Linked DNA regions of Homo sapiens: regions 1 and 2 are each linked to region 3. The links come from fine-mapping of genetic effects on gene expression. A gene starts in region 3. Each other region holds a variant in brackets. All regions are shown on one strand. Distances are from middle to middle.

Region 1 (2,731 bases), 44 kb after region 3:
ACACAATCATGTTTACTTTCCAGGTATCCACAAGTGAAAATCCACAACTCTGAAGAGAAACTACCAAGACTCCTCCTGCCCCAAACCTCGCCAGAGAAGCTCTTCAACCAGAGGGTATAGGTCAGAGGGATATAAGAGCCAGCATCCATCCCTGGGTTCTCAGTAGGAATGCTGGTGCTGTCTAAAGACCTGGCATTAATGGAGGCGGAGGAGCAGCCTTACGGGAGGGATGGAGGGAGGCAGGCTGGGGAGAAGAGAACATTAGACTCAGGGAATATTTAATTCTGGTTTTAGCATTATTAGAATAAGACTTTATACATTAACTAAAGTGGAGCTTTAATCACTATAAAAAGCAAAAGTATCTATAGACACAGACACTTGCCTATACAGAGACATAACCACACACACTCAGAGGATAGTGAACAAATCTGTCTTTGACTTACGACCCATTTTGCAAGACTTAAAGCCGGAAGAACACATTTTCAGATTGTTAAATAAAGTCTGATTCTGACTATCTGTGGATTGTTTATTTGACAAAGGGCATTGTTGCAACCCAGCACACTGTTTTCCACTTAGGTATGGTTATTGATTCTGCCCCAGGTTCAGAAAGGTTTAGTCACATCCCTGACCCCCAGCTCACCCTAACTCCTGACTGTAATTCTTTTATGATACCAAGGGCCACAGACTCTTCTCCTTAATCCTGCATGTGCTCCCCACTCCCCACTTTGGTTGATAAACAGATACACTTGGAAAGGGGTAATAACATTTTAGAGCTATATCTGGTGTTTACAATTTAGTACTTGGTATGAGTAAGGGTCTGAGCACAAGAGAGGAAGATATGAAACTGAAAGGATACAAAGTATAATAATAACAATCATATCGGCTGGGTGCGGTGGCTCACAGCTATAATCCCAGCACTTTGGGAGGCCGAGGCCGGTGGATCGCCTGAGGTTGGGAGTTCGAGACCAGCCTGACCGACATGGAGAAACCCTGTCTCTACTAAAAAAATACAAAAGCAGCCGGGCGTGGTGGTGCATACCTGTAATCGCAGCAACTCGGGAGGCTGAGGCGGGAGAATCGTTTGAACCCAGGAGGCGGAGGTTGCAGTGAGCCAAGATTGTGCCATTGCACTCCAGCCTGGGGAACAAGAGTGAAACTGTCTCAAAAAAAAAAAATCCTATCCTAGAAATGGCATGAAATTTGGAGTCAGAAGTCCTGGATTCTTTTGGGAGGCCAACAGGGGAAGACTGCTTGAGCCCAGGAGTTGGAGACTAGCCTGGGCAAGATGATGAGACCTCTATCTCTTATTTTTAAAAAAAATTTTAAAGGGCTGGATGTGGTGGCTCACACCTTTAATCCCAGCACTTTGGGAGGCTGAGGCGGGAGGATAAC[C/G]TGAGCCCAGGAGTTTTACACCAGCCTAGGCAACATAGACCCCCATCTCTACAAAAAATTTAAAAACTAGGCCAGGCACGGTAGAGCGCACCTATACTCCCAGCCACTTAGGAGGCTGAGGAGGGAGGGTCACTCCAGCCTGGGAGGTTGAGTCTGCAAGGAGCAACGATCATACCACTGCATGCCAACCTGAGTGACAGAGGGAGACTCTGTCTTAAAAAGAAAAAGAAAAAAAAAAAAAAAGGCCGGGCACGGTGGCTTACACCTGTAATCCCAGCACTTTGGGAGGCCGAGGCAGGTGTATCACAAGGTCAAGAGTTCAAGACCAGCCTGGCCAACATGGTGAAACCCCGTCTCTACTAAAAATACAAAAATTAGCCAGGCGTGGTAGCGCACACCTGTAGTCCCAGCTACTCAGGAAGCTGAGGCAGGAGTATTGCTTGAACCTGGGAGGCAGAGGTTGCAGTGAGCCAAGATTGCGCAGCCTGGGTGACAAAGCAAGACACTGTCTCAAAAAAAAAGAAAAAATTAAAAAAGGAAGTCTTGGATTCAAGTCCTATCATTACTTTATATGAAAATATTTGTGACATTTTCAAAATAGCTCTGAAGTCCTGCCAACTTGATAAATGCCACATAAATGCCAAAACCTTTCCATCCTTGCTCTTGTTTTTAGAGGTGATGATATCACCATTCGTTCAGTCATTCTGCAAGCATTTACTGAGCATCAACCGTCTACCAAGCACTGAGTACCAGTACTAGGAACCAGGGAAACAATGATGAGGGGTGTTAAAAATAAGATATTTAACGAGACAGAATATTGAGCAAGGAGCAGAATGGGCAAGATTTAGTGACGGGCTAGAAGGGCACACATGATGAAAAGTGAGGTGTTTTTCTTTTGTTTTGTTTTGTTTTGTTTGAGATGGAGTCTTGCTCTGTTGCCCAGGCTGGAGTGCAATGGTGCAATCTCGGCTCACTGCAACCTCCGCCTCCCTGGTTCAAGTGATTCCCTAAGCCTCCAAGTAGCTGGGATTACAGGCACACACCACCACGCCCTGCTAACTGTATTTTTAGTAGAGATGGGGTTTCACCATGTTGGCCAGGCTGATCTCGAACTCCTGACCTCAGGTGATCCACCTGCCACGGCCTCCCAAAGTGCTAGGATTACAGGTGTGAGCCATCGCCTGGCCAGGAATTATTCTAAGTTAGGCTTGAGAGACTAGAACTTGGTGGTGTCTTTCCTTTTAACAATGACTGCAGAAAGAAGTATATTTATGTGGGTTCTCTGGTTGCAAGCGACAAACTGACAAAATTAAGCAATAAACGATATGTTGGGGCTGAG
Region 2 (2,759 bases), 160 kb after region 3:
GTGAGACCCTGTCTCAAAAAAACAAAAACCAAACCAAAACAAAACACCAGTTTACAGGGTCCCATCTCCAGTGATTGGGGCACAGACTAGAAATCTGATTATTTATTCATTAGAGTTGAGGTCTTGCTTTGTCGCCAAGGCTGGAGTGTAGTGGCTCAATCACAGCTCACTGCTGCCTCGAATTCCTGAGCTCAAGCAGTCCTCCCAAGTAGCTGTCCCCTAGGCTGGAGTGCACCTGGGGGTACAGTCATGAGATACCATGTCTGGCTGATTTTTAAATGTTTTGCAGAGACAGGGTCTCCCTATGTTGACCAGGCTGTTCTGGAACTCCTGGGCTCAAACAGTTCTTCCCCCTTGGCCTCCCAAAGTGCCGGGATTATAGGTGTGAGCCACTGTGCCCAGCCCTGATTTTTATTTTTTTTTAATTTTAATTTTGTCTTATTATTTATGTTTTTGGAGGCGACATCTCACTCTTGTCACCCAAGCTAGAGTGCAGTGGCGTGATTGTAGCTCATTGCAGCCTCAAACTCCTGGGCTCAAGTGATCTTCCTGCTGCAGCCTCCTGACTGGCTAGGACTACAGGGTCACACCACCACACCTGGCCAGTTTTTCTACTTTTTGTAGAGACTAGATCTTGCTGTGTTGCTCAGGCTGATCTCTAACTCCCGACCTTAAGAGATCCTCCCACCTTGGCCTCCCAAATTGCTGTAATTACACATGTCAGCCGCGGTTCCCAGGCCTATTTCTCCTTTTAATAAGACCTTGGATCTTAGTGTGCCACCCTCCAGCAATAATCTTTGCCAACTGGTTCTAAGAGTCAATCAGGCCAGGCATGGTGGTGCACACCTGTAATCCCAGCACTTTGGGAGGCTGAGGCAGGCAGATCACCTTGAGGTCAGGAGTTCAAGACCAGCCTGGCCAACATGGTAAAACCCTGTCTCTACTGAAAATACAAAAATTAGCTGGGCATGATGGTGCACACCTGTAATCTCAGCTACTCGGGAGGCTGAGGCAAGAGAATGACTTAAACCTGGGAGGCGGAGGTTGCAGTGAGCCAAGATCGAGCCACTGCACTCCAGCCTAGGGGACAAAAGCGAGACTGTCTCAAAAAAAAAAAATGTCAATCAGTCTGACGTTCTACATCTTTATTAGGGAAAATACTCTCTTTGACAAGCAATTTGTTTTATAAAATATCTTCTCTGACACATTTGTTTTACCCTAGTTTATTTTCTGTTGCATCTTATGATGGTTTCATCTTCAAATCTATTAATTTGTATTTTATAAAGAGTCATCTTAATTAGATTTATTTAATCCTTATTAGTGGTCCTTTTATTATTCTTTTTTTCTTATATTTTTATTGTGGCACAAACTTTATACTAAAAGGAAAAGGAGATTCATTGTGAATACATGATAAGTGAAGGAGCCAGTCACAAAAGACCACATACATATGATTCCATTTCTATGACATTTCTAGAATGGGCAGATCTGTAGAGAAAATA[A/G]ATTAGTGGTTGACTAGAACTATGGAGGAGGAGGGAATGGAGAGGGACTACTAGTGGGAATGGAGTTTCTTTTCAGGGTGTTAAAAATGTTCTAAAATTGTTTGTGATGATGGTTATGATATCAAACTAGGTTCGTCCTGCCCACGTGCAGCAAGCCAATCACTATGATGATGGGTTTTGCAAAAGAGACAAGATTTTATTCATAGGGCTGCTGAATGAGGAGACAGGAGAGCAAATCCCAAATCTGGCACCCTGAAAATAGGGCTTGGCAGTATTTGTGGGGTAGGACGCAGGGTGGTCTAAAGCATGGGGAAAGGTGATTGGCAGGTAGGAAAGGTGAGGTAATCAAGGTTTCTGCACAAGCGTAATTGAGCTACATTGCTCTTCATAGGCCATGTGCAGAAAATGGCAGTGTTAACATGATCTAAGTGTGGAGTTTTTGTCCCTCTGACATGAAAAGGTCACTTTTTGGGCACTCATGCAGGTCCAGTTGAGGGATTGGTGGTCTCAACTGGGTAAGAGCTGTCCCCTAATTCCTGAAAAACAACTTTAAGCATCTGTTAATATAGTGACCCACAGTCAGAGATGTCATCTTTTTTTTCTTTCCTTTTTTTTTCTTTTGAGGCAGGGTCATGCTATGTTGCCCAGGCTGTTCACAGATGTTAACTTTTATTTATTTATTATTTATTATTATTATTATTTTTTGAGATGGAGTTTTCGATCTTGTTGCCCAGGCTGGAGTGCAATGGCATGGTCTCAGCTCACTGCAACTGCCTCCCAGCTTCAAGCGATTCTCCTGCCTCAGCCTCCCAAGTAGCTGGGATTACAGGCACATACCACCACACCCAGCTAATTTTTGTATTTTTAGTAGAGACGGGGTTTCACCATGTTAGCCAGGCTGGTCTCAAACTCCTGACCTCAGGTGATCCACCTGCCTTGGCCTCCCAAAGTGCTGGGATTACAGATGTGAGCCACCATGCCTGGCCAACTTCTTTGTTTGTTTGTTTGAGATGGGGTCTCACTCTGTTGCCCAGGCTGGAGTGCAGTGGCATGTTCATGGCTCACTGCAGCTTCGAACTCCCGGGGATCAAGCAGTCCTGCCTCAGCCTCCTGAGTAGCTGGGACTACAGGCATGTGCCACCATGCCCTACTCAGAGTTTTTCATAAATGCCGTTTTAGTGTTAAATAAGTTTCCTTCTATTCCTAGTTTGCTGAATATGTGTGTATGTGTGTGTTTATTGTGGTAAAATACACATAACA
Region 3 (2,726 bases):
GTGAGCCGTGGTGCCCGGCCAGACTTCATTAAGCATCTTAAGGTCAGGGACTGCATTTTATTCATCCTTGTTTCAGAACACCCAGCAATGCCTGGTACACAGTTGACCTTGAGTGCAGTAATGATTGTTTTGGAGAAAGAAGAGGAACACAGTAGCATACAAGGGCCTCTAATTTTGTGTCAGGCCCTATCTTCCCCCTCCACTCCTTAGGAAGTGTTATTTTGACCTTCTTCCCTGCCTTGAGGAAATTTTAACCTGCACTGTAAAATCTGAGTACGTGGTTCCTCCACACCTAGTGTCCTAATCTCAAGCTATCCCCTCAAACAGGTCAGGGAGGAATTTTTTGGAGAACTTCTCCCTAAAGAAACAATAGTTGTCATCTCAACAGCCGCACCCCAATTTGCACAATCTGTGTCTGTGTTCACATTCTGCCTCCATCCAGTACACTGTACTCCAACTAGAAAAACTTGCTCCTCATGCTCAGCACGGGCGTCCATACTATCCTCCTCAGCCTTTTTTCAATGTGATCATTCTCTTGCCTAAGAACCAGCCCCCTACCCTGTTTCTATCTCCAGCTTAGTTGTTCCTCATTTATTTATTTATTTATTTATTTATTTATTTATTTATTTGAGACGAACTGTCGCTCTGTCGCCCAGGCTGGAATGCAGTGGCGCGATTTCGGCTCACTGCAACCTCTGCCTCCCGGGTTCAAACAATTCTCCTGCGTCATCCTCTCGAGTAGCTGGGACTGCAGGCGTGCGCCACCACACCCAGCTAATTTTTGTATTTTTAGTAGCGACGCGGTTTCACCGTATTGGTCAGGCTGATCTCCTAACCTCAGGCGATCCACCCGCCTCGGCCTCCCAAAGTGCTAGGATTACAGGCGTGAGCCACCGCGCCCGGCCTGTTTCTCTCTTTCAAGCCCGGCTCGGGTGTCCTGCCTGCTTTCTGCACTCTATCCCTACCAGTTCCAGGCTTAGAGCCTACCTGGAGCAAGAAACGCAGTGTACATGGCGGCTTCGCATGCATACTCAGAGAACCTAAACGTGTTTTCGATATGGTAGGTCCTCTCGCTGAGTGGAACCCACATCATTTTCTACCCTGCGGTGGCAGTTGCTTTGCAGTGCTCAGCGTGATGGGAACTGGCTTTCCGGAGCGAGTGAGTGTGGGCCCACCACTGAGGACCTGGTTCAGTGAGGCCGAGGTTTCGGGCAGGGGTTGGAGCTCGGAAGCTGGCCTCGAGCGAGCGCTGCCTGAGGGTAGGCCCCGGGCCCGCCCCTCCGAGCCGGCCTGCTCCAGCTGACAGTGGTGGGCTGAGGGGCGGGCCTCAGGGCTGGCCAGGGGCGGCCTGAGGTGGCTCAGGGCTGGGGCCGGATGCGAGGCATGCCGGGAGCCCGCACTTCCTCCTCGGGGGCCTCAGAAAACCACAGGGCGCGGGGCCAGGGCGGCGGCCCCCAGGGAGTTGGCAGGATGGCAGAGGGCAAGGCAGGCGGCGCGGCCGGCCTCTTCGCCAAGCAGGTGCAGAAGAAGTTTAGCAGGGCCCAGGAGAAGGTAGGTGGCCGGGCCTCGCTGTCTGTCTGGCCCACAGGGAGCCGAGGCCGAGGCCGAGCCCGGCCGGGCAGGAGGGGCGGGCAGGGTGCTCAGGGGCCCCGAAGGGTCTGGGCTGACGAGAAGGGTCTCCCGCTCTCCCAGGGAAACGGGAGCGAGGAGTGGGCTTCCATGAAAACTGGCAGATTGGAGAGAGGTCGGAGACCGCCACCCGATCTTGGGCAAGGATAAGGGAAGCTGGGGAGACAACAGTCTCTGGGCAGAACCTTCGACAACCCTCAGGCTGACCCAGAAAAGGTGAAAGAAAGGAAGTGATGGTGGTGGCCACCTTTGTATCAAATTTTGTGCTAGCAATCCAAAATTGGTATTTTACAGATGATGAAATTGGAGGGTAATTTTCCATAGAGGGCAATTTCCCCAAAAACAGCGATGCAGCGGATGCCAGCAGGCACCCCCCACCAAAGGCTTAGAATAATCCTGCATAGTTCTCCCCCTACCTGACCCTGCCTGGCCTCTGGGTGGTGTTTCAGCTGACGTAAGCAGGAGCCCAAATCTGCTTCTTCTACCCTCCCTTTGGCGTTGGGGAGTACACCTCCCAGGGTGATGAACCACATCTGTGTTCAGAGTGTGTCCTTGGTTAGTGTCAGGTAGCCCTGCTCCAGCACTGGCACTTAGGTGGGCTGCCCATCTATTACTTGCTTGGCAATCTAAATTGTGGGGACATTCTCTACACATTTTGATGGCATTTTTGTTTCTACCTGTACAGAATATTTTCTTTGCTTCTAACCTGAGCCTCTGCTCTCCACCTACCAACCCTCTAGTAGACAAGGCGGTTTGGGAAGACATGTCAGCCAGAAGAAAGAGCGAGGGAAGAAAGACAAGAAGGACCTGAGATAGAGTTTCGGTTTTCCTTTTTTTCTCTCTCTCTTTATTAAGCCCAACCTGCCTTCTACAACGGAGAAGTTTTGGTTTTCTAAGAGCTGATGGACTTAGAAGCATTTGGATGAACAGCTCTGCTTACCAACTGAAATATCCCTATTATCTTCTAAAAGTGGAGCACTGCTTTGAGCCCTGGGAAGGCTTAAAGGCAACCAGCTCTCCCGAGTTGATTTATCAGCAGAAAACTGATGGAATGTAGATGTAGCTCCTGACTTTAAGAGACCACAATGGAAGGGAGG

What was found. PIP is the estimated chance that this variant, and not a neighbour inherited with it, causes the effect.
Region 1: its variant is fine-mapped to the expression of BIN2 in whole blood (TOPMed, PIP 0.98).
Region 2: its variant is fine-mapped to the expression of BIN2 in whole blood (TOPMed, PIP 0.96).

Annotation. Positions count from the first base shown.
Region 1 is chr12:51,278,821-51,281,551 of GRCh38, reverse strand. It overlaps BIN2 (bridging integrator 2), which reads left to right. Exons shown (of 13, transcript NM_016293.4): 13 at 24-514. The coding sequence ends at 53. Among named protein-coding and RNA genes, the nearest start is that of SMAGP, 9.8 kb to the right of the region's middle. The variant C/G (reference allele first, on the strand shown) is at 1,393.
Region 2 is chr12:51,165,759-51,168,517 of GRCh38, reverse strand. The region is part of intron 1 of TFCP2 (transcription factor CP2); the gene reads left to right. Among named protein-coding and RNA genes, the nearest start is that of TFCP2, 6.0 kb to the left of the region's middle. The variant A/G (reference allele first, on the strand shown) is at 1,500.
Region 3 is chr12:51,322,847-51,325,572 of GRCh38, reverse strand. BIN2 (bridging integrator 2) reads left to right here and starts at 1,399. Exons shown (of 13, transcript NM_016293.4): 1 at 1,399-1,551. The coding sequence starts at 1,471. LOC105369767 (a long non-coding RNA gene) reads left to right here and starts at 1,565. Exons shown (of 2, transcript XR_944957.3): 1 at 1,565-1,845; 2 at 2,370-2,726. RefSeq lists a silencer at 1,164-1,653 and an enhancer at 1,684-1,873.